Linked DNA regions of Homo sapiens. The protein of the gene in region 2 purifies or fractionates together with the protein of the main gene of each other region. This does not show direct contact. Each region holds a gene or a part of one and is shown on either strand. Other genes may lie near its edges.

Evidence for each region.
Region 1: the proteins of TMPRSS5 (region 2) and CDC42SE2 purify together in Homo sapiens (affinity purification with mass spectrometry; 2 studies listed by BioGRID and IntAct, with this or other methods). This does not show direct contact.

Annotation. Positions count from the first base shown.
Region 1 is NC_000005.10:131,374,386-131,391,125, forward strand, and holds part of CDC42SE2 (CDC42 small effector protein 2), read left to right. Parts: intron 1-11,157; coding exon 11,158-11,259; intron 11,260-16,607; coding exon 16,608-16,706; 3' UTR 16,707-16,740. UniProt on the Homo sapiens protein: Probably involved in the organization of the actin cytoskeleton by acting downstream of CDC42, inducing actin filament assembly. Alters CDC42-induced cell shape changes.
Region 2 is NC_000011.10:113,679,822-113,696,561, forward strand, and holds the end of TMPRSS5 (transmembrane protease serine 5), read right to left. Parts: intron 15,623-16,740; coding exon 15,579-15,622; intron 14,820-15,578; coding exon 14,657-14,819; intron 13,429-14,656; coding exon 13,250-13,428; intron 11,119-13,249; coding exon 11,020-11,118; intron 10,553-11,019; coding exon 10,410-10,552; intron 10,097-10,409; coding exon 9,944-10,096; intron 8,454-9,943; coding exon 8,439-8,453; 3' UTR 7,729-8,438; downstream 1-7,728. UniProt on the Homo sapiens protein: May play a role in hearing.

The DNA.
Region 1 (16,740 bases), on a different chromosome or scaffold from region 2:
CTGGGTGCGGTTGCAGGTGCCTGTAATCCCAGCTACTTGGGAGGCTGAGGCAGGAGAATCACCTGAACCCGGGTGGCAGAGGTTGCAGGGAGGCGAGATCGTGCCACTGCACTCCAGCCTGGGCAACAGAGTGAGACTGTCTCAAAAAAAAAAAAAAAAAAAAAAGTTAAGCAGACATTGTGTGTAAAATTTGTGACAGAATTTTTTTTTTTAAGCTAAGCAAGCCAGAAGCAATTCCAGTGCAAAGTGTGGTGTAAGAAAAATTAATTATAGTACAGTACTTGGCTCAATTGTAAACACTCTTCACATAGAGTTAATATAAACACTTGATTTTTGTATTTCAATTTTATATAGTAAATGTTTGGGGGGAATTATATGACTTGCTTTGAAACACAGTTGTTCACACAGTGATGTGAAGGAAACAACAGTGGACAAGGAAGACTCCCAGATCTGATTTTAGTTAGCTGTGGGACTTTGGCAAGTAATATCTTCCTAGGTACATTGTACATTGTATACATACAGTGTATAGAAACAATCCCAGATGGACCCATAGTGACAGAAATTTCTAGTGAAAAGTTTTTAACACCAATGATATTAACAATATCATTAATACTTGAAAGCTAGTTCAGATTAGTTTCTCCCCTCCTTTTTTTTTTTTTTTTTAACCTATTTTGTGCTTCAGTTTTCATACTTGGAATATGTGACTTAAACCAGATACTAATTTTAAATAGAAGGAGAAAAAAACTGTTTTCACTTCAGGTTTCTCACTGAGAGATGAGAACAACTAGTTCCTTCAATTTTGCTTTTAGCAATTTGGCCCTTGAAAAGGTCACTATAGATTTGCTTAGAGATTCTTTTTAAAAACATTTGGGGGTCTCCTGCAAACTTCTCATCTGTCAAAAGCTGCAAAATACATACTGAGTAGGAAAAGGTTAGTTACCTACTAAACCCTAAAGGACAGATACCGACAGCACCACACTTAAGATTGAATTGTAAATGCATTACCAGCAACTCACCTATTTATTTATGAATATTTCCAACACAAAATATCTTTCCTTTCTGTACTTTGACTTAGATAATTCTCTGCTTATAATACTAGCTGGTTTTGGTTTCTCTGTGGTGATCTATGGTGTGACTCTCATCTCCTCTGGAGAGAGCTCCTTATATAAGCTCTGTCACCTGAGGGCCACTGCTGGCATTCCAGTGAGTGAGCTAAGCTCTAGAAGCCAGACAAGTAGAATTATTTTTCCCACCGTAGAAGATACAGTACAAGTTCATGTATAGAAGAAGTTTATTATTTTCTCAAGTTTTGACCTAAGTATGAGAATTTGGAATCCAAAGTAGGCTATTCAGTTATTGAAGAGCAGATATTTTTCCAGTCTCTGCAGTATCTAAAACCTTGTTTCTCTTTCATTTGTCCCTTAACATATTAGAGATTTTTTTGTCATATTCTTAGAAACTAGACTTCCACAGGCAGTTTTATCAACTCAGATTACCACCCATGGGAAGGCTGAATTCAGCTTCTTTAACATGAATATCCAGGACCTGGACACTGTTAAGACTCCCATCTTGGCCAGGCATGGTGGCTCATGCCTGTAATCTCAGCACTTTAGGAGGCCAAGGTGGGTGGATTAGTTGAGGTCAGGAGTTCGAGACCAGCCTGACCAACATGGTGAAACCCATCTTTACTAAAAATACAAAAAATTAGATGGGCATGGTGGTGCATGCCTGTAATTCCAGCTACTCGGGAGGCTGAGACACGAGAATCGCTTGAACCCAGGAGGCGGAGGTTGCAGTGAGCTGAGATTGCACCACCGCACTCCAACCTGGGTGACGAATGACTCTTGTCTCAAAAAAAAAAACAAAAAACCTTTATTCAATAGAGAGTACAAAGGTGAACAAATGAGGACTTCTGAGCAGTGGCTGAGACAAGAAGTGAGAGTTTGCCAGAGGATCCCAGATTTGAAGGGAAGGTAAAATGTCATATACTGCTATAGAAGGTACTAGCAAATGAGTTCATGGCTTTAAAGTTCTTGGAACTGTGCCTGGTATCTTATAAGTACTCTTTATTACCCACTTTTACTTTTTAAATATTCAGCTGTTAATCTTTATTTTTTAATTTACCTTTGAGGTTCAGGGGGTACATGTGTAGGTTTATTATATAGGTAAACTGAGTCACAGATTACCTGCTGTACAGATAATTTCATCACCCAGGTAATAGGCATAGTAACCATTAGGTCGTTTTTTGATCCTCTCCCTCCTCCCACCCTCTACTCTCAGATGGGTCCTGGTATCTGTTGTTGCCTTCTTTGTGACCATGTGTACTCAATGTAGCTCCCACTTACAAGTGAGAACATGTGGTATTATGTTCCTGTGTTAGTCTGCTTAGGATGATGGCCTCCAGCTCCATCCATGTTGCTCCAAAGGACATGGTCTAGTTCTTTTTTATGGTTGTGTGGTATTCCATGGTGTATATGTACCACGTTTTCTTTATCCAGTCTACCACTGATGGGCATTTAGGTTGATGCCATGACTTTGCGATTGTGAATAGTGCTGTGATGAACATATGTGTACATGTGTCTTTATGGTAGAATGATTTATATTACTTTGGGTATATACTCAGTAAGGGGGTCCTGGGTCAAATGATACTTCTGTTTTTCACTTCTTTGAGAAATTGCCATACTGCTTTCCACAATGGCTAAACTAATTTACATTCCCACCAGCAGTATATAAGTGTTCCCTTTTCTCTGCAGCCTCACCAGCATCTATTATTATTTGACTATATGTAATTTTTTTTTTTTTTTTTGAGACAGAGTCTCTCTCTGTTGCCCAGGCTGGAGTGATGTGATCTTGACTCACTGCAACGTCTGCCTCCCGGGTTCAAACGATTATTGTGTCTCAGCCTCTCGAGTAGTTGGGACTACAGGGGTGTGCCACCACACCTGGCTAATTTTTTGTATTTTTGTAGAGATGGTGTTTCGCCATGTTGCCCAGGCTGGTCTCGAACTCCTGAGCTCAGGCAGTCCGCCCGCCTCAGCCTCCCAAAGTGCTAGGCTTACAGGCGTGAGCCACCACGCCTGGCCTGACTTTTTAATAATAGTCATTCAGCTGTTAATCTTTAGAGCCAGTGTTTTCTATTAACCATTAAGCCATCAATATCACTTGGAATCTTGTTAGATATGCAAATTGAAGCTCCACTCCAAACTTGCTCAATCTGAAAATCTTCTGTGACTAGAGCTCAGAAACCTGTATTTTAACAAACCTTCCAGGGATTCTGATGTACACTGTAGCTTGAGAACCACTGCTTTACAGGTTCTACCCAATATAAAAACTAAAACAGTGTTACCAGTTAAAACCTCTCTAGAGCACACAGCATTTCTATGAAAGAGAGAAAATTAAATCAGCAGATAAGTATTTTTTATGCAGAAATGTAGACTTCATTAGAATTGGCATTACATTGTTTACATCTTCCAAATATAATAGGTTCTTGAGAAATATTTGGCGATAATATTAGATAAGACAAACAATTTTTAGAGAACTGAGCTGACATTGTTTCTTTAAAAAAGCCTTTTATTCATTCAACAGTCATTTATTGTCTACTGTGTGTCAGGCACAGCTACTGTTACAGAACTCTTAGTAGTGTAGGAAAATCAAACTGTAAGCAAGTAAGTTACAATACAATGTTTTAAGTACTATAATTGAATATGAGCCATGTGCTGTGAATGTTCAGAACAGGAAATATCCAACAGCCTCAACTCGGAATGTTTATGTTTGAGCTGGGTCTCAAAGAATGAGTAGGGAGAGACTTGGGGCAAGGGTGTTTCATATAGTTTGTTGACATTACTACCATAAAAGGTATTTTCATTTTTTGTGTCAATGAATATCCACTAGGAAGATCATTTTCATCAAAAAATGTCAAATCCATTTTTTATATTATTACAACTTTTGTTAGCCTTTTTTTCCATACTGTGAACTAGATTGATTAACTTGGAAGCAGCTCACGCACCCAGGGAATCACTGTCACTGGCATCATAGAAAAAAAATACCCACTTGTTTTAGAAATGCCTGGTTCCTAATTACACTGTCAATATTTCAAAAAACTAATGTAGCTTATTTCAGAGGTTCCCAAACTTCTCTTAACGGTTCTGTAATTTTTTTCATGGTGCCTCTAGGCCAAGAGAAATACCGTACAGACTTGTTTATTAACTAATTTGGTACAAACAACTTAGTAAAGATTTATGTCCCAACAACTTATTTGCCTTTAAAAAATAAGATATAAATTGAAAAATATTTTTATTTAATTCTTAAATAACCAGTTACATACTTATGGTGTGTTTGTGCCTGTTGGGATTATACAACTTCTCAAACTGTGGAATCAGACTGAACACCACCACCTTCTTTTCTAGTTCCATACTGACTTTTGCATAGTGCTTGGGTTTTTTTCACAGTAACCACTGAAAACTCAGCTTCACAAAGATATGCTGTTAAAAAGAATGTATGTTCTAATGTTGAAGTTACAAATTATCTGAAGCTGGTAGTTCACTCAGTGTCAAACACACATTGAGCCTCACTGTGTTTCCCTCAAATAGAAAACCCTGGCACCCCTGGGTTTTGCTGGGATGCCCCAAGACACAATTTGGAAATAGTGGGCTTGTTAGATTTAATTCATAGATTTAGGGATTTAGTTACACAACTCAACTGACTTTCTCTAGGTCATAAAGTTGAGTCAGCATAGCTTTCAACCTTTCATTTACTTTGGCCACATTTGCATAAATGATTGCTATTTTATACCCTGAAAGTTCCAGCTTTTTTCACTGTCCCAGATGGCAAGTATTTTCATTTTCTTTATTCACTCTGTATCTGCTTCTAGAACTACCTCAGGCTGTACCATCTTTTACTCTTACTGTAGGCCTTCTGCTAACCTGATGGGACCTGGCCTTCATTTGCTTCTCAGTGACATGTGTTTGCACACTAAGCTGCCCAGAGAATAGTCTTTGGGAAAGTTTTAACTTTTAAGTGATGATGTAATTACTGTTTTCTAGAAGCTACAGTTGATCCATATGCCAGAAATGTGAGGGAGGTAGATATAGTATGGTTATATACATATTGTTTAGATAAGGATGCAAATAAGGTTCTCACAGTAGCAAATCCTTTGAAATTAACCTGCTTCTCGCCTCCTTGGATATACTCCAAATTGTTTAGTTCATTATCTTTAATAATTATGATGTAATTATGTAAAAAGTTATGGGAAGAGACATTTTGCCTAATGTCCCCTCCACACTAACATAGCAGTTCATTTGGGTCTCTAGTCCTTCACCTTATGCAGAATAAAAGTTAATATTTTAAGGATGCAAGGATTATTCAGATGGTTGACGGTCTTAACAAAGTTTCCTATAAAGAATTTGTTTCCAGGAAACACGGTGACTCTGCTAACGACAACTGTTAATACGTATCAGAGCAGAGTGCACCATTTCCTGTTTTTCTTTGCGGAGGTCTGACTCTGGAATTCCCCTTGTTTGCCCATGACTATTCTTTTTTTTTCTTTTGAAACAGAGTCTCACTCTGGCACCCAGGCTGGAGTGCAGTGGTGTGATCTCGGCTCACTGCAACCTCTCCCCGCCAACCCCCCACCCCAGGTTCAAGTGATTCTTCTGCCTCAGCCTCTCAAGTAGCTGGGATTACAGGTGCCTGCCACCATGCCCAGCTAATTTTTTTTTCTTAAAGAAAATATTTAATTTTCCATAGTTATTGGGGCTACAGGTGGTGTTTGGTTACATGAGTAAGTTCTTTAGTGGTGATTTGTGGATTTTGGTGTACTCATCACCCGAGCAGTGTACACTGCACCATATTTGTAGTCTTTTATAAAACCCTTGCCCCCCTCCCACTCTTCCAGAGCCCCAAGTCCATTTGATCATTCTTATGGCCTAATTTTTGTATTTTTAGTGGAGACAGGGTTTCGCCATGTTGGCCAGGCTGGTCTTGAACTCCTGACCTCAAGTGATCCACCTGCCTCAGCCTCCTGAAGTGCTGGGATTATAGGCATGAGTCACCATGCCCAGCCACCCGTGACTATTATACAGTACCCCAAACAAGTGTGCCATTCTTTAAATGTCCACATTGTGCCTTAAAATACTGCATTTTTATAGTTTAGAATATTTATTTATATTTAAATCCAGGTTTTTGATAGAGTGTTGTAGGAAAGAGTGTAAAGAACACTTCCACCTGTGTCTAGATCCACCTTTCCTGCCTTCTCAGGAACCTTGTAAGGTTGACAATCCATTTTCTTTTTCCTTCTTTTTCTGTACCTCTTTTACTGGATCTTTCCCATTAGAAATTGAGCATAATGAATTCTCTGCCATCTTACAGGGGAAAAATTCAATCTGTTCTCATCTCCTTTTCTCCTTTCAGCCACTGACCTGTCTTCTTCCTGTCCAGAAGGCCAGACTTTTCTCCAGAGTTGTCTCTGTTCTCTTTCTCCATTTTCCACTTCTTAGACCCACCTCAGTCCCCTGCAGCGTGTCTTCTCCTCCTATTACTCCACTGACATAGCACTCACTAAGGTGCCCATTGACTTGATATTGCTGAATCCATTGCACGTATTTGTCTTTAATTGACCTCTCACCACCTTTCAGCTCTGCTCCCTCTTGACACTTGTACACACTGCTGATTTTCCTACTGACTTTCAGGCTGTTTCTTTTTGGCCTTCTTTGATGGCTTCTTCTCTGCCCAACCACAGAAATTTAGTTTGTCTAGGAAATCTCATTAACTTGGCTTTGTTAATGCTGGTGATTCTCAGTCTCTTATCTCCAGTTTGGATTCTCTCAGAACCCAGTGAATTGCACACTCTCTGCTGAAATCTGAAGTCTGTGCATATTTCTTAACTCCTCCCTCTCACTGTTACCAAATCCAGCCTGCAACCAAGTGCTGTTTTTTTTTGTTTTTTTTTTTGTTTTTTTGAGAGAAGTCTCGCTCTTGTCCCCCAGGCCTGAGTGCAATGGCTCGATCTCGGCTCACTGCAACCTCCGCCTCCTGGGTTCAAACGATTCTCCTGTCTCTGCCTCCCAAGTAGCTGGGATTAAGGCACCTGCTACCACGCCTGGCTAATTTTTGTATTTTTGGTAGAGACGGGGTTTCACTGTGTTGGCCAGGCTGGTCTCGAACTCTTGACCTCAGGTGATCCACCCGCCTCGGCCTCCCAAAGTGCTGGGATTACAGGCGTGAGCCACCACATCCGGCCCAAATGCTGTTGATTTTATCCACTGACTACTTCTTGAATCTATCCACTTCTATCTGTGTTATTAGTTGAATCCACATAATCCCTTTTCACCAACATTAATAACTTATTTTGACCTCTTCTAACATGTTTTCCACCTATAGCTATTGTGGAATAGTCTTCTCAAGCTATTTAATCATGTTATTCCTCTGCTTTAAAACACTTTCAATTATTTCCCATTGTTCTTGGGAGGATCACACACTTCAGTCCTTTACAAACTCTATGTGATCTGGTTCTTGCTTATCTTACTATTTTCATCTTAGGTGTTTACCTTTACTATGCTCGCACAACACAGTTGCTCCTTTCAGTTTCTGGACAGCTGAGTTCCCTCAGCCTTGGGGAGCGAAGGACTGAAAGCTTCTTTCATATCTCACAAACTGTTAGATTAGATGCCATGAAGAAACCTTCCAATACTAAGGTGTGACTCCCAGCTCAGTATAGTTCAAGCTGAAAAATACTCACTATTATTTTCACATTCATATATATTAGTTATCTAATAACACAGTATGATAGAAGTAAGCTGAAGTCTTCCCATCCTTTGCTTTTCAGTGTCAGAGTAGCTTCTTGGGAACTAGTTTTGTTATCAGCTTTTGAATATTCTCAGTAATCATGTTTGCTGAATTATTGTTTGTGAGTATGTGTTAATACCCTTCTTTCACAAGCATATCTATTCATTCTTTTTGGGTGAGATGGGTGGTGGCCTGAGCACACTATGGTTTCTGTTCTCCCCCAACACAGTCCTGCAGTAACTCAACAGAATAAATCACTTAATATGGAGGTATAGACCAAGTGGAGCCTTTTGGCAAGCTCTAAACACACCCTTCTGGAGGAAATGATGCAGAATGAGAACTGTTAGGAGTTGCTTCTGCAGGTTCACAGGACAAGGGTTGATCAAGACTCCTCCTAGTGGTCTGGAAGTAGGTACCAGGAAGTATTCTCTGGTACCACCTCCTCCCCTGCTTGAGAGAGCCAAGTGGCTCTCTCTGCATATCAGAAGCAGTTATCTTGACATGTTTACTGCAAACGCCTGGGGAAGAGTCTGGTGTCCTGCAGATGCCACTGTCCTGTGGAACTGTGACAAGAACCTAGAAGCTTCCCTCTCTACCTGTCAGTTAAGTGGCTCACTGGGGAAGAAATCCCAATAATTTGTCCTGCCCACATGCTGAGAAAATTCGTATCCTGTGATGGTAAAGATTACATTTCTGGACCTGCCCAAATAGCTTCCTAATAAGGAAATTTAGTGGAAATGTAATAATATATTATTAAGAAGAGAAAAAGGCACAAAACTGTTAACATCTTTTTTCCCTACTTTATTCCTAAAAAAGATAAGTTAGCATTGTTTAAGGCTAATTCATAGAATTATGCTTTATCATTCCAAACAAAAATAGTATGAAGAGAAGTATGTTGAATGGGGTGGTTGGAAATAGACAAACTGAGTCTGTGAAAAAGATGGGGAACAGAGGAAAAGACCAGTGCATTGCTGGCATGCAGCACTCCAGATCAAAGGATGGTTGTGGGTGTCAAGTCTGCCATTAGGGGCAGGGAGTCTTTGTATGAGGCACCTCTAAGATCATCAGAGGGAGCAGTATGCGAGAAAAAGATAGCAGGAAACCAGTGCATTGTGCTAGGAAATAGAAAAATTAAAACACATAGACAAAAGCCTCTTTTGACTTTATGATACCATTTTAACCTGCAAGTTTTATGATTCTGTGGAACAGGGCCCCAAAAGACAGACAGTTTCTTACCAACTTTCAAAAAAAGGCTTGAAGTAAAACTAAAGTTGTTCAAATAAAGAAATGAGAGTTCTTTGTTCCCTAGTGTTATAGACTTATAATTTATATAGTTAAGTGTTTTTAGGGAAAAGAGTGAAAAACTATAATAATACAACTTTTTCAGAGATTAAAAAATGTTGCAATGACATGTCATAACAGCCTCTGAAAAATAACCATAATGGAAAAAATGAAATTATGTGGCTACTACTGAAAAAATCTAGAGCTGGGGTCAGCAGACTACTACTTTTACAGGCTAAATCTAGCCTGTCACCTGTTTTTGTAAATAAATTTTTACCATAACACAGCTATACTCATTTAATTTCATGTGCTCTGCAGCTGCTTTCATGCTACAATAGCAGAGTTGAGTCAAAGCTACAGTGGAGATTGTATTTGGCCTGCAAGGTTATAATATTTACTATCTAGCTTGGACCTCTGAAGAGGATAAAGCAGAGTTACTTTTCAATGCAGTGAAATTATAAAGAGAAATAAAGGATGAAAATATAAGAAACTTGGAAGATTATAGACACACACATGTTCAAATGTCCACATAGGCAGGAACTCCAGAAATAGCAAAATGAACACATGGAGCAATTATCAAGGAACTAACAGAATAAAACTTTTCTAAGATACAGAAAACCTGTGTTCAGATAACCGTGTGCCACGCAGAATTACTGGAAGGAAAACCCAACAAACTTGGAGATGGTCTAATGTCATTGCTGAATTCTAAGGATGAATAACATAAATATTTCAAAGGAAAAGCGTCAGGGTTTTTTGTGGTTGTTGTTTCTATCTATGACAATATAAACGAGAGGACAGTAAAACAATGTATATGGACTTCTAAAATATATGCATGGGCTCGCCACTTTTGTGGTTTTGTAGAAAGTCATGTTTTCACCCTGAGGAGCTGTCATATGGGACTCTCGTGATAAAATTTTAGGGTTTATCAGGATCATGCCAGCGTTTCAGTAGATAAGGACATAAAAGTGTTATGTTCAAAGGCAGCTAATCCAGCAAGTTTGTAACTCTGCTTGGTTTTGAGGGAAGCTGCAATTTCAGGAGAAGTATACTATTGACAGTAAACTGGGATAAGCAGAGCCCCATAGTAGGACACTAACCCAACGTGGCCAGTGGTCTCTCCCAATAACATTATCATATCTAAGGGATCATGGAAAACAGGACAGATCTAAGATAATCTTCATATCTGGAAAACTCTTAGATAATCAGTGAAACACAGCAGTACAGTCAGGAAATATCTCTAAGGGGTAGATGAGCATATTGGTCAGAACAGGGACACCAGCTGGTGGCTAAAGTTACTGGAAAATGGGGCTCAGCACCCCATGAGAAGTGCTTTTCAAAAATTAGGAAGAGTCAGCCAGGCGTAGTGGTGCGTGCCTGTAATCCCAGCTACTTGGGAGCTGAGGTGCGAGGATTGCTTGAGCCCAGTTAAAAGACCAGCCTGGGTAACATAGCAAGACTCCATCTCAAAAAAAAAAAAAAAAAAAAAATTAAGAAGAGTGAGTAAGACCCAGCCTAGTTAGTCAACAGGTTTAGTTCCCAGCTAGAACAGACCAGAGAAGAGTGAATGGACTAGGACCAAATCTGTCACCCTCTCACCCTCCCACCTCCACCCCCTCCAGCTGAAATGACAGATTCATTTTAGCATAGAAAGGTAATTGGGTATAATCTGAATAATAACCATCAAAATATAATACATCTGTTAATGATGAAAGCCAGAAAGTAATGTTTAAAATCAGACAGTGTATTCAAACCACTGTGTTCTTTGCCAACAATAATAGTGACTGAGGGTAATTTTACATTTGTCTCGTTTTTTAAAAAGAATAAAACTTAAGCAGTTATTAAATATGTGGATGACCAAAGCTAGACCAAATAATCTATTAAGCTCTAAATAATAACCTGTTATTTTGCTTTACTAATCATTTTTGTGCATATATTTGTCTTGGGGATTTCATCATAAGAAGTAATTGTGGCAGTCTAAGAGCTAGGCATTTTTGTGTTCTTGGCAAATTTATTAAACAGTCATAGTATAAAAATCCATCAGAATAAGTTGCTCATAAGATCACTTTCTCAACACATTTGTTCCCCATATTTTAGAAAAGGCGACGGCGGATTGACAGAAGTATGATTGGAGAGCCCACAAACTTTGTGCATACAGCTCATGTTGGATCAGGAGACCTGTTCAGTGGAATGAATTCAGTAAGTATGTTGGTGGGACATGCAGGTAGGGCATTGGGGCATAGTCATATGAAACCTGTGTGACAGGCACAAGCATTTTTAATAGCATTATGCTAAATGAATTTGTGTACAGTGAATGTAAATACATAATATGAGCATAGAAGAGAGAAGCAAACTACTGATGAAAAATTAATCTCTTTGAATTTCCTGGATTAGGTATTTGTTTCTGTTTCTTGTACGCAACTCTTCATAGCTGCCTTTGTCCCGAATAAATACTTTGAAACTTGAAAGGATTTGAGTTCAGAATGGAGGTTAATATCCTATTGATTCTCTTGCTCCCACCAAAGAGACTTGGATATCAGCCTTTTTAATAATAATCTCTTTTTGTTCTTTTAAGTTCAGTTAGTTGCCTTTTGCACACATTTTTATTGCTTTACTTTATAAACCAGTGGTCTCCAACCTTTTTGGCACCAGGGACCAGTTTCGTGGAAGACAGTTTTTCCATGGGGGAAATGGTTTTGGGATGAAACTGTTCTACCACAGTTCATCAGGCATTAGATTCTCATAAGGAGTCCACAACCAAATCCTTGCATGTGCAGTTCGCAATAGGGTTTGTGCTCCTATGAGAATCCCATGCCATCACTGATGTGACAGGAGGCAGAGCTCAGGCGGTGATGCTCACTTGCAGCTGCTCACCTCCTGTTGTGCAGCCCGGTTCCTAACAGGCCACTTCTGGTTTTGGGACCCCTGTTATAAACTATTCATCTTTACCTGGTAATATTAGAATGTTGGTGATTTATTTACTCTAAGTTCTCATGCACTAAGCATAGGATTAGAATTTTCACATATCCCTTTAGGGCAAGGCAGTAAAAATTTGTCACATTTGCCAGTAGGATGTGAAGAACCAGAAATAAGATTTATTCGCTGTCTTTTAATAGAGGTTTCAGTGAGTTTCAGAATAGGCTTTAGATCTACTCAGCTGACCTTTTAGTCCTTAATTTTTGTTGAAGAGAAAACCAGAATGCATTATAATAGAAGCAGCACCAAATGCGGGTTCTTATCAGAGTTGTTCCTCACATTTGCCTTAAAGCAGGCCACTGAGTTTCAACAGACTGACTCTTTTCCCCATGCCTAAAGTAAACAAGTATAAATGATCCCTAAAGTGTTCAAAACCAGAAAGGATTTTATAAACATAAAATTATGATCCACTGTATACCAACTTACTAGACAGCATTAACAAAAGACTTAACAGGGACTTTAAAAATAGGTAGATGGGTATCCTGGATACAGCAACGACGTTTGTCACTGCAGTTACTAGGTAAGCAAAGGAATGACATTTGAACCTTGCCGGAAAGGAAACAGCTTGTTTGTTTTAAATCCGTAGGAAAAGTACTTTGTTTCACTTGACTGCTTTGTGGAAATGCAAGAGGTATCATGTTGCTGTCAAAACAGTCAGTAGTTTTGTTTCCTGCATCAACATAGAGTGAAAAGACTAAATGAGGCCCTATTACTTTTATTAATATGGTTACTATAATAAAGAGAATGGGTAGTTTCAAATTTGTTATATATGATGAATTTTAATTTCTCTCTCATCAACAGATGTTGTCTCTGCCACCTCAGATTTTTAAAAAATCCAACTATAAGGCCAGGCACGGTGGCTCACGCCTGTAATCCCAGTACTTTGGGAGGCTGAGGCAGGTGGATCATCTGAGCTCAGGATTTCAAGACCAGCCTGAGCAATGTAGTGAAACCCTGTCTCTACCAAAAATACAAAAAAATTAGCTGAGTGAAGTAATGTGCACCTGTGGTTCCAGCTGTTTGGGAGGCTGAGCGGGGAGGACTGCTTGAACCTGGGAGGGGGGAGGTTGCAGTGAGCTGAGATCATGCCTCTGAACTCCAGCCTGGGTGACAGAGTGAAACCCCATCTTAAAAAAATAAATCCAACCGTATAGGAGGAATTAAATTTTAGTTCGTGGCATTTAAAATCTTATGTACATTTCGGAATTTCCTTTAAGATTCCTCCTTGAATGAAAAACCTGTCATTGGCTTACTATTTTTTTGCTTCTCATAGTTTAGGTAGAACTTTAGGACTGTACTTTGCAGGGCTTGCACACCTGCCTCTTAATCTTAGATGCAGGATTGAGATGGGACTTTAGCTGTGGTAGAGTTTCTACCTTGCTGTCTCCAGGCAGCCTTCTCTGCTACTGAAGTGGACTTTTTATGAAGTATTTCAGCCCTTTAGAGCTAAATGTGCTTCCCAAATGTGTTCTATAGTTATTTCGTATTTGAGTTTGCTATCTCTAAAGCAATATTCAGCATCCATCCCACTGTCACAGAGCACTGTGTTCTTGCTGCTAGGAATGGTGTTGTTCAATTAGTAACTTTTTTTTTTGAGACAGAGTCTCGCTCTGTCACCCAGGCTGGAGTGCAGTGGTGCAATCTCAGCTCACTGCAACGTCTGCCTCCTAGGTTCAAGCAATCCTGTCTCAGCCTCCTGAGTAACTGGGATTACAGGCTCCTGCCACCATGCCTGGCTAATTTTTTGTATTTTTAGTAGAGCGGGGTTTCACCATGTTGGCGAGGCTGGTCTCAAACTCCGGACCTCCGGTGATCCACCCACCTCGGCCTCCCAAAGTGTTGGGATTACAGCCATGAGCCACCACGCCTGGCTGAGTAACTTTTCTTGAAAGTATCATTGATAGTACTGATTTGATGAGCCTGACTCTGTGAGAAAAATTATGTTCTCCTATGCAATGCAATAATAAATAAGAAGAAACCATAAATAGACATGCTGTTTATTCAAATAAAAGAACTGAGCAGCTAGTATTAGGAATGTGGCTTGACGCATATGAAACAGGCTTGCCTAAACTATATTATTGAATGGTTAGATGACTTGTAATTTCTTTTTTCTTCTAAATATATTATTCTTCTACCTTTACTTAGTGTAAAAGACTCTTTTCTACTACCCTCTTTCCAGAAAAGATTTCCGTTACCCGTTCAGTAATACAACCTTGCGTTAAAATATTGTATATTCACAGTCACAATAATACATTGTCTCAACACTGAAAGATTACTTATTAAAGTTACTTAATAAAGGTTACTTAAGATAAACCAAATCTTTTAAATTGAAGAATTGACTTTTGGAGAAAAATACTTTTTTTTTCTTAGAATCTGCTTGGCATTATTGAATGCACAATGTAAAAACAAACAAAGATTTTGTGTTTGGTTGGTTTTGGGCTTTTTTGATGCAGAGTCTCATTCTGTTGCCCAGGCTGGAGTGCTTACTGCAGCCTTGACCGCCTAGGCTCAATCGATCATCCTGCCTCAGCCTCCCCCAGTAGCTGGGACTACAGGCCTGCACCACCATGCCCAGCTAGTTTTTGTATTTTTTTTGTAGAGATGGGGTTTCGCTATGTTTTCCAGGCTGGTCTCAAACTCCTGGGCTCAAGTTATCTGCCTACTTCGAACTCCCATAGTGTTGGGATTACAGCTGTGAGCCACTGTACCTGGTCATAAAGATGTTTTTTAAGCCAGGCCTAAAATATCTATAAAAGCTAACATGCCATGTTAAGTGGAAAATTACTTGGTATCAGGTTTGTGCCACATAACTTAATGTTAGTTACCATAAAGGGGAAGATGACGAATTTGAACTGGTATCATATGACAGGCCCTAGCCTCTTCACACTGCATTAACTGAGCAAGTTTATGTTTAAAAAACAAACAAACAAAAATATAGATTTCTTCTTACACTCTTACCTGAAGGTAGTCATTTTATTAATCTGACTATTATAGCAATACCTTATAATGTGATGTCATACGAATAAGATGTTCCATGTAAGTAAATTTCCAGGTTAGTAAAAATGTCCCCATTTAAGAGCAAAACACATTTTCTCATTAAGACTCTCTTGATCTAAATAAGCTATGCATTTTCTGTTTTGCCATTATGTTCTTTTACAGTATATATTGAAACCTGACTTACTCAAAAAATGAGTTAGACAAGTCTTACTTTAAATATATTGACTCAGAATCACCAGTGGAAAGCACCTCACCCTTCATGCCTTATGTTACAGTAGGTGCTCAGTAAGTATTTGATAAGCAGGTGACTGATAAATAGATGATGCCCCGGTTCCTTCCAAATTGTGGAAGTGTGCAGGGCCCTTTGAGCTGATTCCATGAAATAAATACTCGACCACATTGCTAGTGCTCTCTCTCCACTAGTTAGGCCATCACCTCCAAAATCATATTGCTTGTGTTCCTTCTTCTAGCAGTCTAGCCTGACTCTCCAATTCTCTGCTTCCAGACTGCTTCTAATTTATATGAACTAAGACTGGAATAATAATGATATGCTAAAAGTACTTCACAGTTTGCAAATGACTTTATGTGCCTTTGTTTCAGCAAAAAGAAAATATCCCAATTTTCATATATCTTGCACTCTATCAGGAAACAGCCCTGCAATGTGGTCGGGAGAGATTACCATCTTAACCCTTTTACAGATAAGAAGCCTGATACTCAGAGAGGATAAATAGTTTACCCAGTTACAATATTAATAAATAAACTGGGACTATATCTGTCTTTGGATTCTTTGATTCTTTTTTATCAGGCTATATTAACATGGTACATTTTTTGACACAGACTTTTAAGATTTATCTTTGGTTGGTCCAATTTTATTCATGCTTATTTTCTTGGTTTTGATTCTTTACTAAGTAATTGAGGTGATTATATATGTGAGATATCTGTAAATTAAGATACTTGAGGTTGAGAAACAAAGTGGAGTTGATCGGCCGGGTGCGGTGGCTCATGCCTGTAATCGCAGCACTTTGGGAGGCCGAAGCAGTCGGATCACTTGAGGTCAGGAGTTCAAGACCAGCCTGGCCAACATGGTGAAACCTAAAAATAGAAAAATTAGCTGAGTGTGGTGATGTGTGCCTGTAATCCCAGCTACTAGGGAGGCTGAGGCAGGAGAATCATTTGAACCTGGGAGGTGGAGGTTGCAGTGAGCTGAGATGACGCCAGTGCACTCCAGCCTGGGCAACAGAGCGAGACTGTCTTAAAAAAAAAGAAAGTGGAGTTGATCTATATATTTTTGACCATTTTTCAAATGTTACCAAGTGCCTTGTGAATTACAAAACTGACTTTTGTAATTTGGAAATAGAGAAAATAGGGGTTTTTGCAAAAAATGTTTCAGTTGCTAGCCTCCCTGTTTGTCCTTATAACTAGAAAATTGTTTGTCTATAAAAAAATTTTTGTCTATAAAAGTACCCTTCTGAAAAAAGCAGCCCAAATAAAATTCTGGGAAAAGAATTACTTAGTTGCACCGGACCTACTTCCTGACTTCCATTTTGTTTTGTTGTATTTTTGTCTTGTTTTAGGTTAGCTCCATTCAGAACCAAATGCAGTCCAAGGGAGGTTATGGAGGTGGAATGCCTGCCAATGTCCAGATGCAGCTCGTGGATACGAAGGCGGGATAGCCCTGGTCCTTTCTCCAGTGAGTACTCAGAGCTG
Region 2 (16,740 bases):
GGATGCTTTACAGTGCTTTAGGGAAGTAGGGACTCACAGGAGAGAGGTCTGTTTCTGTCATCTTGCCTTTTTGTCTCACTCCAACGGTTAGGAGTAACCATCAATACCCATGGAGACCAGATGGGAGAAGCCCTTCCTGCTCCGGGCTGCTCACTTTAGAGGGCCCGCCCCCCGCAGGGCCAAGACCAGAGTGAGGCAGGAGCCAGCCTGCCTTTGTATGACCCTGAGAGTGATGCCTCCTTCAATTTTGCACTGAGGCACGTCACCTGCCTCACCCTAGTCCCAGCCCTGCTGTCCTGGCCCTTCTTTGACCAGACCCACCGTAAGGGGAGAATTTGCAATGTTGACGTCCTGTGCCTACCCAGACCTGCGTCTCTCTCTCTCTAGATCCTGAAATTCCCAAGGTCCCTGAGCCCGCTTCCAGAGGCTGCACAGGTACCCCTGCTGGGCATACCCCTAAGCAGGATGGAGTGTCTGCACGGCTGTGCAGACAGCCCTTAGCTGAGGGCGTGGGGAGAAAAGGTGGCCAGAAGCCTACTCTCTTCATCAACCAAGCTCCAGGACAGAATCCAAAAATTCAAGGATTCAAAATTTGGATCTGACCTTCCATATTTTTATATGGTCTATTTTTTATGGTAGGAAGATAGAACGTTTTTAGTTTAACAGTGTGTTAGGGTGATGTATTACTCTGAACTATTTAGACATGTGGTATACGGGCCTCTATCCACACTCTTGTCTGGACCCCATAAATGTGAGCCTGGAGGAGTCTTGAGAGAGGATGACCCAAACGTCAGAAGACTCTGTGGAGAAATGACCCCTACACACACACCTACTACTATAGGTCTCTATTGCTTGTATAGGACCATTGCAATGAATTCTTTGTCGGATTTATGATCCTGCCTGCCAGGTAAAGTGTCCAGGTGGTATGTAAGCATGTGTATGAGGGGATAGGCTTAACATGGTCACTCACGAAGGATGAGCCATTTTTGCTGAGGATGAAGCATGGTCATTTGCAAGAGAATTTCCCTGACATTGTCCATTGAAGGAGGCAGCTAAACATGGTGGGGCCCTGCACATGGAAAGTGGCTAGAATCAGATCTGTCCCTCTCACAATTAGGGGAGCAGCTCTGCAGAGTCTTACCTCGGCGTCCTTACACTTCCTCCCTTCAGTCGAGCACAGTGACACATCTATAATCCCAGCACATTGGGAGGCCGAGGCAAGCGGATCATTTTAGGTCAGAAGTTCGAGTCCCTCCCTTTCTCCACTTCCTTCAGGCCCTTCAAGCTTCCCACAAAATCAACATACACGCATGCACATGGATCCTGTGATCTCTCAGAGCCTCCCAAGCCCCCAGGCTTTCCACTCTCCTGCTACCTTCCGCCACCAGTTTTGACCCATTAGGATTGACATCATGCAAATTGAGGCCCATCTTTTGGTGGCCCCAGGGACAGTACAATGTCACCAAAACATGGGCTGTACAGCCTTAGACACACATGCAGGGGTAACATACCTGCAATGTCATCTTCAGCTGCAAGGTTCCAAGTCTCAGCCACCACCCAGGCCCACCCAGGCAGGCTAGGCCGTGATAAAAGTTATTTCTGGATTGCGTCCATTATCAGGAGCAGGAGTGACAGACGAGCTCAGCTGGAGCCCTTTCTTCTGGGATCCTCACTGGTAACACACCCTGTCGGGCCCACCATGTGCCGCTGGGTTTGGAGATACTTGGACCCCAGCTGCCTGCCGATGGTTCTGCTAGCCCAAAACTTTGTTCACTGTCCCACCTCATGTGGGAAAAGGCTGGTGGCTGGTGGGGACACTCTGGCCCCTGATGGTTGGGGAGGAGTTGGTCTAAATCCACTCCTCCCAGCCTCACCTTCGCCCTCCACCACCCACCTGGGTCCCTCCAGAAAACTTTGCAAGGTCTGACTTTCTGCCTGGGCCTCAGCAGTCCTCTCAACTGTTCCAGCCCCCTCCTGGATCCACTATACAAATACAGGCTCACTGCCAAGAAGTGAGAACAATAAATCTTCCCTCATTCTTTTATTCATGTCCTCACCTCTGCAGGGACTGCTGAGGAAAAACAAACCCCACAAAATCCCTGTGGGCTCTGGCAGTCTGGCAGTCTCTTCTTTGCTCCTCTCTGATGATCTTTGGAAGGCAGAGGCCAGGAGAAGAAGCCCATCCAGCTCCCGTACGGGCGGCAGGCCCTTCTCTTCCTCCTCCTGAGTGGGCTCAACCACTCGAAGCCAGCACCTATAACATGCTGAGCCCGCACCGGGCTCTAGGAACCAGAAATCAGAGTGACCAGGGGAAACTGGGACATCGATATGCATGGCTTGCCGGAGTAACACTACACCTGACTCACCTTCCTAGCCTCCCGCAAATTGCCAGAGAAGTTCTGGGCCTAGGAGGGCCAGGCTGTTTGCGCAAAACATTAGGTAAGGTGAGGGAGGGCTGCCCTGGCTGCAGGCTCAGAAGCTACCACAGGGAAGTGGCAACCAGGGAAGCTGCAGGCCCTGAGGAAGGAGGGGCTCTCTCCTTAAGGGCCTCCAGGGCAAGGCAGCATCTGCTGGTGTCACAGCCTTTGCAAAACAGTTCAGACCTTGAGAATTCCCAGGACCTTCCTCCTCCAACTCTGTGCACCAGGGAGTGCTTCCTCAAACTGAGGAAGGATAGTAGGATTCGGGGATGCACTGAATTTTGCAGAACTCCATTTATACAGAAGAGATGCATTAGACTTAGGGTGAGCCACTGTCCTAGTTTGTCCAGGACTGAAAAGTTTCCCAGGACATAAGCTTTTCAGTGCTAAAACCAGGACAGTCCTGGGCCAACTTGGAAGATGGGTCACCCTAACAGAGGGGCTGTGGGAAAACCGATCCTCCCTCCCTGAGCCTGGCATGTGGCTGGGTCCAGAGCAGGGTTTGGATCCCAGATGTTTTCTAGCGGTTCTGCTAACCCACAACTTTCCTCACTATTCTAGGCATGAAGAAAGGCTGGAGGAAGGAGTGGGTCCTCATGGCCAGCTTAGGAGCTGTCAAGGAAAACAGAAAGAAGGAAAGCGTTCACGGTCTTCGTGGTAGAGAGGAAATTCCTTTGGCTGCCTTTGCGGAGCTGGGGCCCATGAGGCTTCAGACAGAGCCTGGGGTATCAGAAAGTGAGCTGGAGAGCACCTAAAAAACTGCCAGATTGAGGGGCTCAACCTTTCCTTGAATCCTTGCCCAGGGTACAAATGCTAGGTACAGCAACATGGCGAAAGCTGCCTTCCAAGTCTTTTGCCCAGTTTCTATTGCTCCCATGGACCCAGAGGGCTCCCAGGGACGGCAGCCTTGCAGTGCTGTGAAGCTATAGCAAGCTGACTTCTGTAGATCTGTCCCAGGGAACAGGCTGCTCCTAAAGGTTATCCAAACTGGAAGTGGTGGGCAGACATCTCAAGAGGCAAAAGAAGTTTGAGTTAAAGCTGGTCTAACAAGGCAGATCCCGTGGAGACCATCTTGCCCAGACTTCTAAGTTGACAGATGAGAGACCAAAATCCAGGGAGACTGAGTCACCTGCTCGAGCAGCACATTCCCACGTGGGATGTGATGGGACTCTGCATCTAGAACCATTGTTTCCTACTATCAGATGTCACAGCCAGAGGTTCCTTGGAAGGGAGAAAGCTCCGAGATGATGCCAGCCTTTTGCAAGTCTCTGCCTTCCTGGAGCCCACGTGCTGTTCTGGGAGAGGCTAAGTAGCAAGGACTCTGTGCCTCTGCAGCCACGATTTCTCTCTCCATTCTGTTTGATTCCCCAGCTTGGTTCCCTCCAGCACCACCTCCAGGTGAAAGCCTCCACAGATCCCCCTGGAGTGCTCCACCCTGGGGAGACTCCGAGCAGGCAGGCCTGCTTGGCCTCTCTCTTTCCCAGCCTTGAATGTATGAGAGAGACCAGCCTCAGCCCTCAGGAGTAGGAAGCTGCTGCCTACCTACTTCCTTACGAACCTGCCTAGAGGTGGAGGGATTTAACACACAGTTGAAAAAGTCATTAACAACACCTGGCTCTGATTAGTTTAGTAGGAAACAGAGTCCTGAGGGTGCGGCACACCCTGAGTGTTCACTGCAGCATGTCTGCTAGGGAGGTATAGATGGGGCTCAGGCCCAGGATGCTGGACTGGAAAGTGGGGGCAGGTGAAGGTAGGTTTTCCTTTGAGTAGCTGTGGAGCAGCAAGAGGGTCCTGAGAGCATGGCCAGGAGACGGCAGAGTAGAGAGGAGAGAAGAAGCATCAGAGGGACTTGGGAAAACATCTGACAGCTACCAAACCAGTTCTAAGCATTTATAGCATTTCCAGTTTTGTCCTATTGTGGGTGAGCCAAGCACCTCCAAAAAGAAAATATAAGAAAGAGCCTGAGAAATGTTCCTGAGGAATGGCAGGGCCGCCCCTTGTTCCCAGAAACCCTTTTAGGAAAAGCACGACTCCACAGAAGGTGTCAGGAGGGGAGAACCTGAATCTGATGCTAGAGGGATGCTGAACCCTCTAGCATCCTTGAGACCCCACAAGCACACAGAAGAAGAGGGAAGGGATCTGCACCCATCATGGCAGCCAGGAATGACCCTCTTGGAACATCTCAGGAGGCTCGAAAGCTCTGCCCAAGCAGGTGGGATGCTGAATCCTACCGGAGGAAGGCAGAGGTTTCCCACATACAGAATTACTCTGACTTCTGTAACAACAGGCTCTTGGAACTCCCTGAGCAATTACTACCTCCCCACTCAGCTCTCTGCCTGGCTGGCTACTAGTAATTTATTGCAAATAAGTCTCATTTCTCCAATAAGACAGTCGGCTTTTCTACCTCCGAATTCCCTACAGAGCTTAAGATAGCTGGGAACCCAGCTGGTCCTCATTAAGGCCCTTCTGAACCCGAATCTTCCCAACCTTCCTGGCCCCACCTCCACCCCTTCATTCCAGGAGCAGGCTCAGGGGAACGGAGCTGGCCAGGCCACTCGCTTCCCTTCCCTTTCCAAAGAGCTGGACTGGCAGATGCTAATAAGGAAAGTGAGAGATTCTGCATCTGCAGATCTGACTGGTAGCCTGGCCAAAGAGAACAAGAACTTCTGTATAGGTAAGCAAGGAATCTTTATTAGCAAATTCTCTAATTAGGGTACCCTTTATAGCTCTCCTATAGGAGATATTCATTTGTAAGTTTTAGTCAAGACCGTGAATCTCAGGGAGAACTGAAAATTTCTAAGAATATTGTTGAGAAGGGTCTTTGGCAGGAGCCTCTTAAATTCCTGGGTTTTGGTTCCTTCATCTATAAAAAAGTAGGTGTGGGAGGCCGGGTGTGGTGGCTCACGGCTGTAATCCCAGCACTTTGGGAGACCAAGGCAGGTGGATCGCTTGAGGCCAGGAATTCAAGACCAGCCTGGCCAACATGGCGAAACCCCATCTCTACTAAAAAAAAAAGTACAAAAAAAATTAGCCAGGCTTGGTGGTGCACACCTGTAGTCCCAGCCACTCAGGAGGCTGAGGCATGAGAATCGCTTGAACCTGGGAGGCAGAAATTGCAGTGAACCAAGATCATGCCACTGCACTCTAGCCTGGGTGACAGAGTAAGATTGTCTCAAAAAAAAAAAAAAAAAGGTAGGTGTGCCAAGGCATTACTATAAGCAGGTGACTTACACCAGGTGACCTGAGCAAGTACCTTCCAATTCTATTCTTCTGTGCAATACTGGACCATCTCATTCATTCATGTGCATGACAGTAATGTGGATTTAGAGTAAAAAGACCCACGGTTGACATCCTGGCTCTAGTGCTTACCAGCTGGGTGGTCTTGGGGGAGTCACTTAATCTCTCTGAATTAATTTTCTTATCTGGAAAATGAGGACAATAATAATAACATCTGCACCACATAGATTTGTGAGCTCCCACATATGGGCATGTTTTCTAAACTGTAAAACACTATTCAAATGTTACTGAGTATTGAAAGACCTTGATGGCTGTAATTTTTTTAAACTTCCCTTTAAATATGCAAATGATTATGATTGACATCAGAAACACAAAAAAGATCACAGCTGCTGGATTTGCTGTTAACTTATCCCTGCCCAGGGGGATCTACTACCCCATCAGTGCCTCCTGAGGCAGGGACTTAAGGGAGCTGGGCAGTAAATGTTGATCCCAGGGTAGAGGCTGAAGGTCTGACCTCCAGGGACACAGGGCGAGGCTATTTTGCCATTCAGCAGAACTTCTCCCACGTTGCTTCTACAGTTTGACAGCAGACTCCCAGCAACTACTTCCCTGGTTAATAAACTGGCAGTAAATTGAAACCTTCATTTTCTAGTGCACTTCATGTAAAGGGAGCAGACCCTCTAGAAATGAGTAATCATTTGTACAACTCCTCAAAAAATATGCTGATAAACTCACAAAGTTCTGTTATTGCTAAACACTAGTTGCATTTCCTTGGGTAAGCACCATAAAAAATTCACTGCAGTTTTTAGAAAGAAGATGCCAGTCACATTTTAACTGCTAGAGAGGAGAGAGTTGGGGAGAGGCTTACCCAAGGAAATGCTAACTGGGCATAAAACTCAAAAAGAGAGGCCAAGTCAAAGGCCCAGTTCCAAAACAAGAGCTAAGAAGGAGAGATGGGTCCAGGTGCGGTGGCTCACACCTGTAATACCAGCACTTTGGGAGGGCGAGGCAGATGGATCACCTGAGGTCAGGAGTTCGAGACCAGCCTGGCCAACGTGGTGAAATCCCGTCTGTACTAAAAATACAAAAAATTAACCAGGCATGGTGGCTGCAGTATGCCTGTAATCCCCGCTGCTCGGGAGGCTGAGGCAGGAGAATTGCCTGAACCCGGGAGGCAGAGGTTGCAGTGAGCCAAGATGGCACCACTGCACTCCGGCCTGAGTGACAGAGCAAGACTTCGTCTCAAAAAAAAAAAAAAAAAAAAAAAAAGGGGAGAGAGAAGGAGAGATGGGCCTTGCAGGGAAACCAGACCTTCCCAAGAGAGCATTGACTTAAGTGCTTCTCAGACTCAAGATCTCAGAGCACCTGGATGGCTAAGGCTTTTCATTGCAGATCATGACATGTAGATTTTTTTTTTTTTTTTTTTGAGACAGAGTCTCACTCTGTCACCCAGGCTGGAGTGCGGCTCGGCTCACTGCCATCTCTGCCTCCCAGGTTCACGCCATTCTCCTGCCTCAGCCTCCCGAGTAGCTGGGACTACAAGGCGCCCGCCACCATGCCTGGCTAATTTTTTGTATTTTTAGTACAGATGGGGTTTCACTGTGTTAGCCAGGATGGTCTCGATCTCCTGACCTCGTGATCTGCCGGCCTCGGCCTCCCAAAGTGCTGGGATTACAGGGGTGAGCCACCGCGCCCAGCCAACATATAGATTTAACAAATTTAAAGAATTAAACAAACCCCATTTCTACAAAAGATACAAAAGAAGAATTAGCCGTGTGTGGTGGCATGCACCTGTAGTCCCAGCTACCAGAGAGGTTGAGGTGGCAGGCACTGAGCCCACAACATCGAGGCTGCAGTGAGCAGAGATGGTGCCACTGCACTCCAGCCTGGGCAAAACAAATAAGCACAAACCAAAATTCTCAAGTAGATGAACAGGAGTCAGCACCAAAGCTTCAATATGTATAGAAGATAGAAGGAAAATTGTAATTCTACCCTGTAATATGTGTTTGTGTCTGTCTGTCTGTCTGTCTGTCTTTGTGCGAGTGAGAGAGAGGAGACAGAGAAAACTGGACCAAGACCATATATCACTTTAATAACAGAACTCCTTGGACCAGTTCACAGAACTGTCATTTAAAACCAATGTCCTAGACCAACTCCAACCTTCTTGTTTTCCAGTGTACCCACCCCACACAGGGCCAGCCACAGCCAGGTGAGAACAGGAAGGGGAGTGGAGAGGGAGAGTGGAGAGGGTCCTGACTCCCATAGGCTTCATCTGGGCTGGCCCAGCCTTGACCCCATCTGCCCAGGAGCCTCTCAGCCATGGAGTCCTCTAGGGAGGCACTTAGCCCACCTAGAGCACAGGAAAAAGGTGGGACGGGGGGCACCTCCCAGCACCCTCCCAAAAGACTCACACAGGGGCAGGGAGGGGAGAGGGCAGAAGGGCAGGCTTCCTGCTGCTTCTAGCAGCCTCTTCATCTCCAGCTCCTACCTCTCTCCTCCCCCTCATCCCTCAGCAACCACAGCATGCCCAACCAAGTCCCAGCCTCTCTTCTGTCATTGAGTCTCTAGTGAGAAAGAGGACTCTGAAATCAGGGCCCAAGAGGAGAGACCTGTTGGCTGGGTGGCTGGCCAGTGGGTAGTGACTGTTCCTCACACACAGTAGTAGGAGGTCCATGCGTTCTGTGTCGGAGGCTACTGCCTCTCCTCCATTAGTGGAGCTGCTGGAGGCCCCAGGAAGCATGAGGCAGTGGTGTGCAGTGAGACTGGAGGAAACAGCAGGACTCAGAGGAGGGAGTCCTAGACCAAAAGGGAAAGGAACTGATTCACAGCATGGCTCTACACTAGCCAAGCGACTTTTATTTTAGTAAATCACTTAACCATGCAGGGCCTTGATTTTCACTTCTATCAAATGAGGCTAAAAATATCTGCTGCTCAAGATTTTTTGTAAGATTTCTTTGAGAAGATCAATACATACATTCCCTGTAAACTCCGAATGTATTATCTACCAACCCCCACCCCTGCCCAACCTTAGAGGAAGATGCTTTTCATGATCATGCCCTAAATTTGTAAAATACTTTAGGTAAATAATGTTTTTGTTTTGTTTTGTTTTTGAGACAGAGTCCTGCTCTGTCGCCCAGCCTGGAGTGCAGTGGCACGATCTCAGCTCACTGGAACCTCCGCCTCCCAGGTTTAAGCGATTCTCCTGCCTCAACCTCCCAAGTAGCTGGGTGCGTGCCACCATGCCCAGCTAACTTTTGTATTTTTAGTATAGACAGGGTTTCACCATGTTGGTCAGGCTGGTCTCGAACTCCTGACCTCGTGATCCGCCCACCTCGGCCGCCCAAAGTGCTAGGATTACAGGCGTGAGCCACCCCACCCGACCAGTAATGTGTTTTTATACACATTATCTCACTTGGCCTTCCCATTGAACAGATGAAGGAGAGTGGCTTGCCCGGAGTCACACAATTTACGTAGGTGCAGAACCCGAACTGCTAAATGCTGAGCTCTCTCCACAGTGCAGGGAATGTGGCCACTAGTAACTGCCTTAGAGACCAGGGATGAATGATGGTAACAGATATACACATAAATAACACGATAGGCCGGGCACAGTGGTGCATGCCTGTAATCCCAGCACTTTGGGAGGCCAAGGCTGGTGGATCACCTGAGCTCAGGAGTTCAAGACCAGCCTGACCAACATGGTGAAACCCATCTCTACTAAATACAAAAAATTAGCCAGGCGTGGTGGTGCATGCCTGTAATCCCAGCTACTTGGGAGGCTGAGGCAGGAAAATCGCTTGAACCCGGGAGATAGAGGTTGCAGTGAGCTGAGATTGCACCATTGTACTCCTGCCTGGGCAACAAGAGCAAAACTCCATCTCAAAAAAAAACAAAAAACACTGCAGATCACTCACTCTAAGCCTAGCACTGTGCTAGGCATTGTACGGGTCTTATTTAATAGCATATAACAATAGCATATAAGTAGCCATCATGGTTATTATCAGGAAATTAAGGTTTAACAAAGTTAGAAATTTGCCAAAGGTCGACACAGGAAATGGTAGATCTGGGATACAAACTCAGGCATACTCTTACCCAGTTCATCCTTAAACTGATAGAAATCCAATGGATTCCATGTTTAAGCTTCACTTCTTCCTCCACTCACTCTGGGGAATATGTCCTAGCACCCTCCCCAGTCCCCAGCAGGGCCCGGGCCTAAGGGGTAAGGTTCCTTGCATTCGAGGGCAGGTCCTTTAGAAATCTCCCTGCCCTACTCCTGCCCCCACACTCACCTGAGCAGTGTCATGGATCCAGTCCAGAAACTCAGCTACCTTGGCGTAGACACCTGGGTGATTGGGCTCTGCGCAGCCACGCCCCCAGCTGACCACCCCCACTAGGCGCCATGTGTCCCCATCTGGGCACACTAGGGGGCCCCCGCTATCTCCCTAAGGGATCCAGGCATGGAGACACAGAGAAACAGCCAGTTAGTTCTTCCTGATGGAGAGCACCAGACCACTATGGCAAGTGGAATCTCCTTACTGGGCCCCGCCTGCTTCTAGCTGAGATATCTGCTGGCCTCACCCCTCCTTAAACCCTTAGCATGAGCTCCAGACTTGCCTAGGTGCCCCTCCTTCTAGAGAGGCTGTCTCACACCACTGACAAGCTCAGACCAGGGCAGGGGGCCAAGTCACAGCAGGCCCCCTGCCCTCCCACCCCCACCTCCACTCCCACCCTCACCCCAGCCACCACAGGCCACACCTGGCATGCATCAGCCCTTCCGTCCAGGTAGCCAGCGCAAAGCATGCGGGGGGTGAGGGCTCCGCTGTACACGCAAGAGCTGTTGCAGAGCTGAGTGCTGAACAAGGGCACCACCGTGTCCTGGAGCATATCCGAGCTGTAAGCTATGAGAGACACCGAGAAAAACTGCAGGGCACAAAGCAAGGCCCAGGCAGGCAGAGCAGCAAGAGGGGAGGTAATTCGAAGTCCCAGAGACAGGGAGACCCAAAGAGGCGAGCCCAGGGTGGGAGCTGTGGACGCTGAGCAAGGAAGCAGTAGGCTATCGGACTTGGGGGCTGGGAGTGGGAAGAGCAGGAGGACTCACACATACACCAAATGTGAGACCATGGCGCTCCTGGGACAAGGGGAGGGGGAGTAAAAGGGTCTGGGTTTAGGGAAAACTTGCAGTAGATGTTCTCCCCAGAAAGGCCCAAGCAGGGGAGACTGGAGACCCTAGGCCTGACCAAGGGTGATGCCAGGGAAAAACAGGGCTGGCACTGTCATGTGGCCAGGGGATGTGGCCTTGCCTCACCCTGGGGAAGAATGCCTCCCACACCCGCCCCTGCACCGAGGGCCCAGGGAGCTGACTCACTATGGCTAGGGTGGGTGTGGCCCCAGCCAGACACCCAGCACCGCGAGCCCTTCGGAAAATGCTGTTCCTTGGCCGGCAGGCACACAGCGCCCACAGTGTCTGTAGAGAGGCACATGGTCCTGGTCCCCAGTCAGGCTTGGCTTCCCCCACTGCAGAGCCTGGGCGAAGGACCCAGGACTGGCAAGTCCTCCTCAGCCCCCTTCTCAAACAGTCCTGGCTCCTGGGTTCCACCAGCCAGGCCTCCTAGATGGCTATGCAAGTGGGGCACTGTCCCATCTTTGGGGTCCCCTGTCACAGAGGACAGCATGCAAACTGCAGTGTGCATGGCGCCCTCTATGGGTGGACAGGACCCATGCTGCCCCCTCCCCACACCTGGGGATGGAGTGGGGGTGAAAATTCTTTCAGGCCATGGGCACCCAACTTCTAATGAGGACAGTGTTTCCAAAAACGTGACATATCCCATGGGTGCAGCCATGCATGATTTTAGGTAGTACATAGGCACACTATTGAGTAAAGCATTCACTTGGGGAGAACGCCATGTCCTTTTCAATTCTCTTTCAGTCCCTCTAACCGCATCACAGAGAAAGACTTCATTTGGTGCTGGTCTGTGCCTTTCTTACTGCCTGCCGTCCTCCCACCAAACAGGAGACAGCACGCCCAGGTGCAGCAACTTCTGCAGCGGACTCAGCTACCTAGAACTTCCACACTGATTTCTTTTCATGCTACATATTTTTGTGGTTAGGATCTATTTATTATAAGTAACATAGGTTCTCTAGTTAGGTAAGTAATATAGGTTCTCTAACTAGAGATACTAATTATTATCTATTTACTATACCTATTTTGTATATTTAAATAGTAAATATGCTATTTACTTACTATACTATATAGTAAATATACTATTTATTATAACTAAATAAGTATATTTAAAAGAGAAATACTACTACAGTAGATACTCATGTAGTATCTACTACTTAGATACTAATATAGTCGTATTTTTCTTTTAAATACACTTATTTCGGTCAACTAAGAAAGTTTTCTTTTCCTTTTTTTTCTTTTTTTTTTTTTGAGACGGAGTCTTGCTTTGTCACCCAGGCTGGAGTGCAGTGGCATGATCTCAGCTCACTGCAATCTCTGCCTCCCAGGTTCAAGTGATCCTCCTGCCTCAGCCTCCCGAGTAGCTGGGACTACAGGCATGAGCTACCACACCCAGCTCATTTTTGTATTTTTAGTAGAGACGGGGTTTCACCATGTTGGCCAGGCTGGCCTTGAACTCCTGACCTCAAATGATCTGCCCACCTCACCCTCCCAAAGTGCTGGGATTACAGGCGTGAGCCGCCATGCCCAGCCTTAGAAATATCTGTTGAACGATAGTTCACGTATGTGATACAATTTGTGAAATGTGTATGGCAATGACTGTTATTTGGGAAACTTAAGGCTACAGGTAATGACGGGAGGAAGGAGTGTTAAGTATATGTGAACGTATATGTGTGTGTACAGTGTGCATGTTTGTGTGTGTGGTGTGTGTGCGCAAGTGTGTTCATGTGAGCACGTACATGTGAGCATGTGTGAATGCTCACGTGTGAGTCTATGTGCACATGACTGTGTGAGTGCATGTGTGTGTGTGTTTGTAGGTGAATGCCCACATGCACGTGTGTGTCGGGGAGAGTGGCTGCTGGTATAGCTCCAGCCTGGGCTCACGGGCAGGTGCAGCAGCAGGAGGAGCCCTGGCATCAGGCTTAGGAACTGTTTGCCACATGACCTTGAAGAGAGTTGCTTCCCTCCCTGCACTGCAGTGCTCTTGTCTGTATCTACCTGTTTCAACTATCTATCAGGGTTGTTACGAGGACTGAAAGAGAAGATATTTGAAAAAATGTATCTCATAAACTGTAACATGGCACCAAATGGCTAGGACCCGAGGCTAGCCTGGGGACAGGGGTGGAGCAGCCTATTGGTGGATGGGGCAGCTGCTTCAGACCTCAAGGCAAAGCCCACCTGCCCCCTAGCCATGAAATGGGTCTGAACCTCTTTTCCCAAAAGAGCCTGTACAAGAGTTGATAACAATTTCAGAACCAGATGATGCCAAAATTCACTAGTCCCAAAATAAATAGAATGTTTTAAGGTTTACAGTGTTCAGAGGAAACTTCAGAAATCAGCTCACCACTCTCCCACCCAGCCCCCGCCCTCTCTCGCCATAGTCTCCAGCCTGCCCACCCTCAAGCCAGTGCCGCACCTGAGAAGTTGAGAGCGGTCTGGAGCCTCAGGAGGGCGACGTCGTAGTCATGATTCTGGGCACTGTAGAGGGGGTGTGGGATAATCCTCTCCACCAGAGCCCCTTGGTGGGGCCTGACGGCACTGTGGCTGACCAGCCCCGCATGAACCCGCCAGCTGGACAGGCGGGCCAGCCTGAAACTGCACACAGGGGCCATGCTGAGCGGGGAAGGAAGGGGCAGAAGAGGTGTTCCTAAGCAAGGTAGCAGGTGGAGGAAGCTGGCCAGAGCAGCCATTGGTGGGGGGGCCGTCAGCAGGCGGTGAGCTCCCAGGCCCCACAGACTATGCCTCTTAGTATCACCCCAGCAGCCGGCAAGACACTGGGCATGCAGTAGGTGCTTAATAAATGCTGCAGGACTGATGGATAGAGAAGACTATGGGTCATCTGCAACCACCACTCCCTCTTTCCTGCATAACTTCCCTCCAAGTTTTATAACAAACACATAGAGGGCCTTGTGTTGGAAAAACTTCCCCTGGTCCCATCTCTCAACTTACTGTGTGTGATCATGGGAGAGGCACTTCTCCCTCTCAGCCTCGGTAAAATGGGGATTACACTCTCTGCCCTGTCCGGCACCAAGAGAAGATCAAAGAGCTCATTCACTCATCATTCATTCATTCCTCCAAGTCATATTTATTAAGCACCTACTATATTCCAGGGACTGTTCTAGACCCTGGGGACACAGCAGTGGATAAATCTACAAAGAGATTTAGTGGTAAATAAGACTGAGAGTCCCTGCTCCTGCAGAGCTTCCCATCTAAAGGGGAAGAAACATATTAACCAAATAATTACATGGAAAATGATTGAACCAAAGATAAGCCTGAAGAAACACAGGATACTGTGAATGTGAAAGTATTTTTAACACTTAAAAGCTAATGAGGCCAGGCACGGTGGCTCACGCCTGTTATCCCAGCACTTTGGGAGGCTGAGGCAGGCAGATCACCTGAGGTCAGGAGTTCGAGACCAGCCAGGCCAACATGGCGAAACCCCATCTCTACTAAAAATACAAAAAATTAGCTGAACATAGTGGTGCCCAGCTGAGGCACAAGAATCGCTTGAACCCAGGAGGTGAAGGTTGCAGTGAGCCAAGATTGCGCCACTGCACTCCAGCCTGGGCAACAAAGTGAGACTCTGTCTCAAAAAAAAAAAAAAAAAACTGATGAATATAAAGAACAAATCTTCATATTATTACTGTTATTTGTGCAGATCTGTTCTTGATACTGAATGAGAGAACTTCACAAACACCAGTCTTACCCTTTTGGAGCAAAAAGCTGGAGACAGTTGGACACGAACATTTGATACAGGACATACCAACAGCCGAACAGAAAGGGCAACTGAGGCTCTCTGTCCTCAGCAGCCACAGAGACTTGCCTGTGCATACAATGTGCAGCAGTCACCACCCAGCGTGGCGCTAGCACAGAGCCCCCACACGTGTGCCGGAAGCCCAGGGCCACGCTGGCCTGCCACGGCCAGCGCCCAGGAGCCACAGACTGCCCACCAACTATCCGGGAAGCCAGGGGCCTCGCTCCACACTCTGCCAACAGAGATGGGTGAGATAGAAAGAGAGAGAGAGGTGAGTGTCAGCATGGTCCTAACTCTCAGGAAGCGTGGCCCAGTGCTAAGCCCCAGAGAGCCAGTGTGGACAGCTCTCCTTTCTTATTCCTGGTCCTAAGTATGGGGGATGGGAAGGTAGAAGTGTTGATTTCACCCCTGCCTGCCCCATCCAGCTGTGGGCCCACTGAAAGCAGAAACTGTATCTGCACTAATGGAGCCCTAGTACCTAACAGAATGCCTGTCCTGTAGTAAAGGTCGAAGTGTTGGTGTGTGGAAGGATGTGTGAATGGACAGATGAAGAGACGGGTAGATGAACGGGAAGACCAATGAAAGGAACTCCACAGATTGCTTCCCGTTTGGTACCTGATTCACCACCTGCCCTTAGTTTCCTGAAGCTGCTAACAGGTCACTCAATAGCCAATAATAATTTCACCTCTGGGGCTTTCCAGAAGAAAGATGGAGTTGGTGTCAGAGGCCAAGGAAGAGAGTGGCAGGTAGTGAAGGAAGGAGATCATCAGCCCAGATCTGTGGCTGGTGAGGGACATGATGGAGGCTTAGAAAGGGTTCGGCTGGGGCAGAACAGCAACTGCAAGAAGGGGCCTGGCAGGCAGATGGGCAGGTGGGCAAGACCCCTACCCCAGGCCCAGCAGAGTCTCACCATAGGGCTCTTCCACACTTGAGGCAGGGGGAACACCCCTTCCTCTCACCGCCACCTCCCCTAGACCAAGATATGACTCACCAGAGCATCTGAGGGAAACAACTTGACCAGAAGTGCAGTTGTTCCTGCAAAACAGAGGTACCAACAAGAAGCTGGGCAGGGGCCGCCCTGCAGCCACACACATCCAAGGACGTGAAGAATGGGGGAGGCTGGTGGGGGTGGTGGACAGTTCTTAAGGCTGTCATGTAGCCACAGCCTGAAGAATACCACCATTTCCTTCCTGCCCCCACCCAAACACTCAGACCCCTCCTCATCAGTGGTCCCCAGGACAGGAGCACACCTCCTGCCTAGTCTCCCAGAGGGCAACAGAAGGACTTCATGGTCCTTGCAGATCAACTGGGACATAGTGTGTTTACAGATGAGAAAGCCACACTGTTCCCACTAAGTGTCCTGAATGAATACACACTCAATGAATGAATGAACGGATAGGTGAGTGTGTGGGTGACTAGGGTTCTTCACCCCATGCTCCTTCCTAGGTTTGCTGTATTCTCCACCCTGGTCCCTCTGCCTGGGCTTTGCATATTCATATTCTTGCTCTCCTCTTTCCCCTCTTCTCTCTTAGCTCTTAGTTCCTTTTTTGACCAAAACTCTCTTCTCTTTCTTTACTCACCTCTTGCCCCTAGCAGTCCAATGTCTAGACCCTCTTAGTTTCTCCTAGTTTCCCAAATCCATAGCCCTCCCGGCTCTCCTGGAGGAGTCAGCCCCACCCCTACTTCCATTTTCCCATTCAGGTATCCAAGACAAGAACCCTGTCAGAACCTTCCCAACTCCAGCCACATTCCTGAGCACAGGAGCTGGACAGGAGGGGCCTGAAGGAACAGTTCAAATTGGAAATGTGGTAATGGGGGTGCCCACCTTTCTATCCCAGGAGGCTGATAGGCAGATTGAGGAAGCCTAGGAAGGCACAAAGACCCTCTCCGCTTGTGCCCCAGTCATACCAAACCATCCCCAGGATCTGGGGAAGGGGCTGCTCCATTCCACAGCCCTCTTCTCTAGGAGACTCTCCAGACTACAAGCAACTCTTAGCCAGAGCAACTCAACCATCTCTTTCCTGAAATATCCGAATTATCCAAATAATGTGTGGCAGGATTCAGAGAGCACTTAGCTTGGAGACAGGAGCCTGGTTTCAAGGCTTGACTTAGCTGCTTATTACTTATGTGACCTTGGACAAGACTCTTTAACC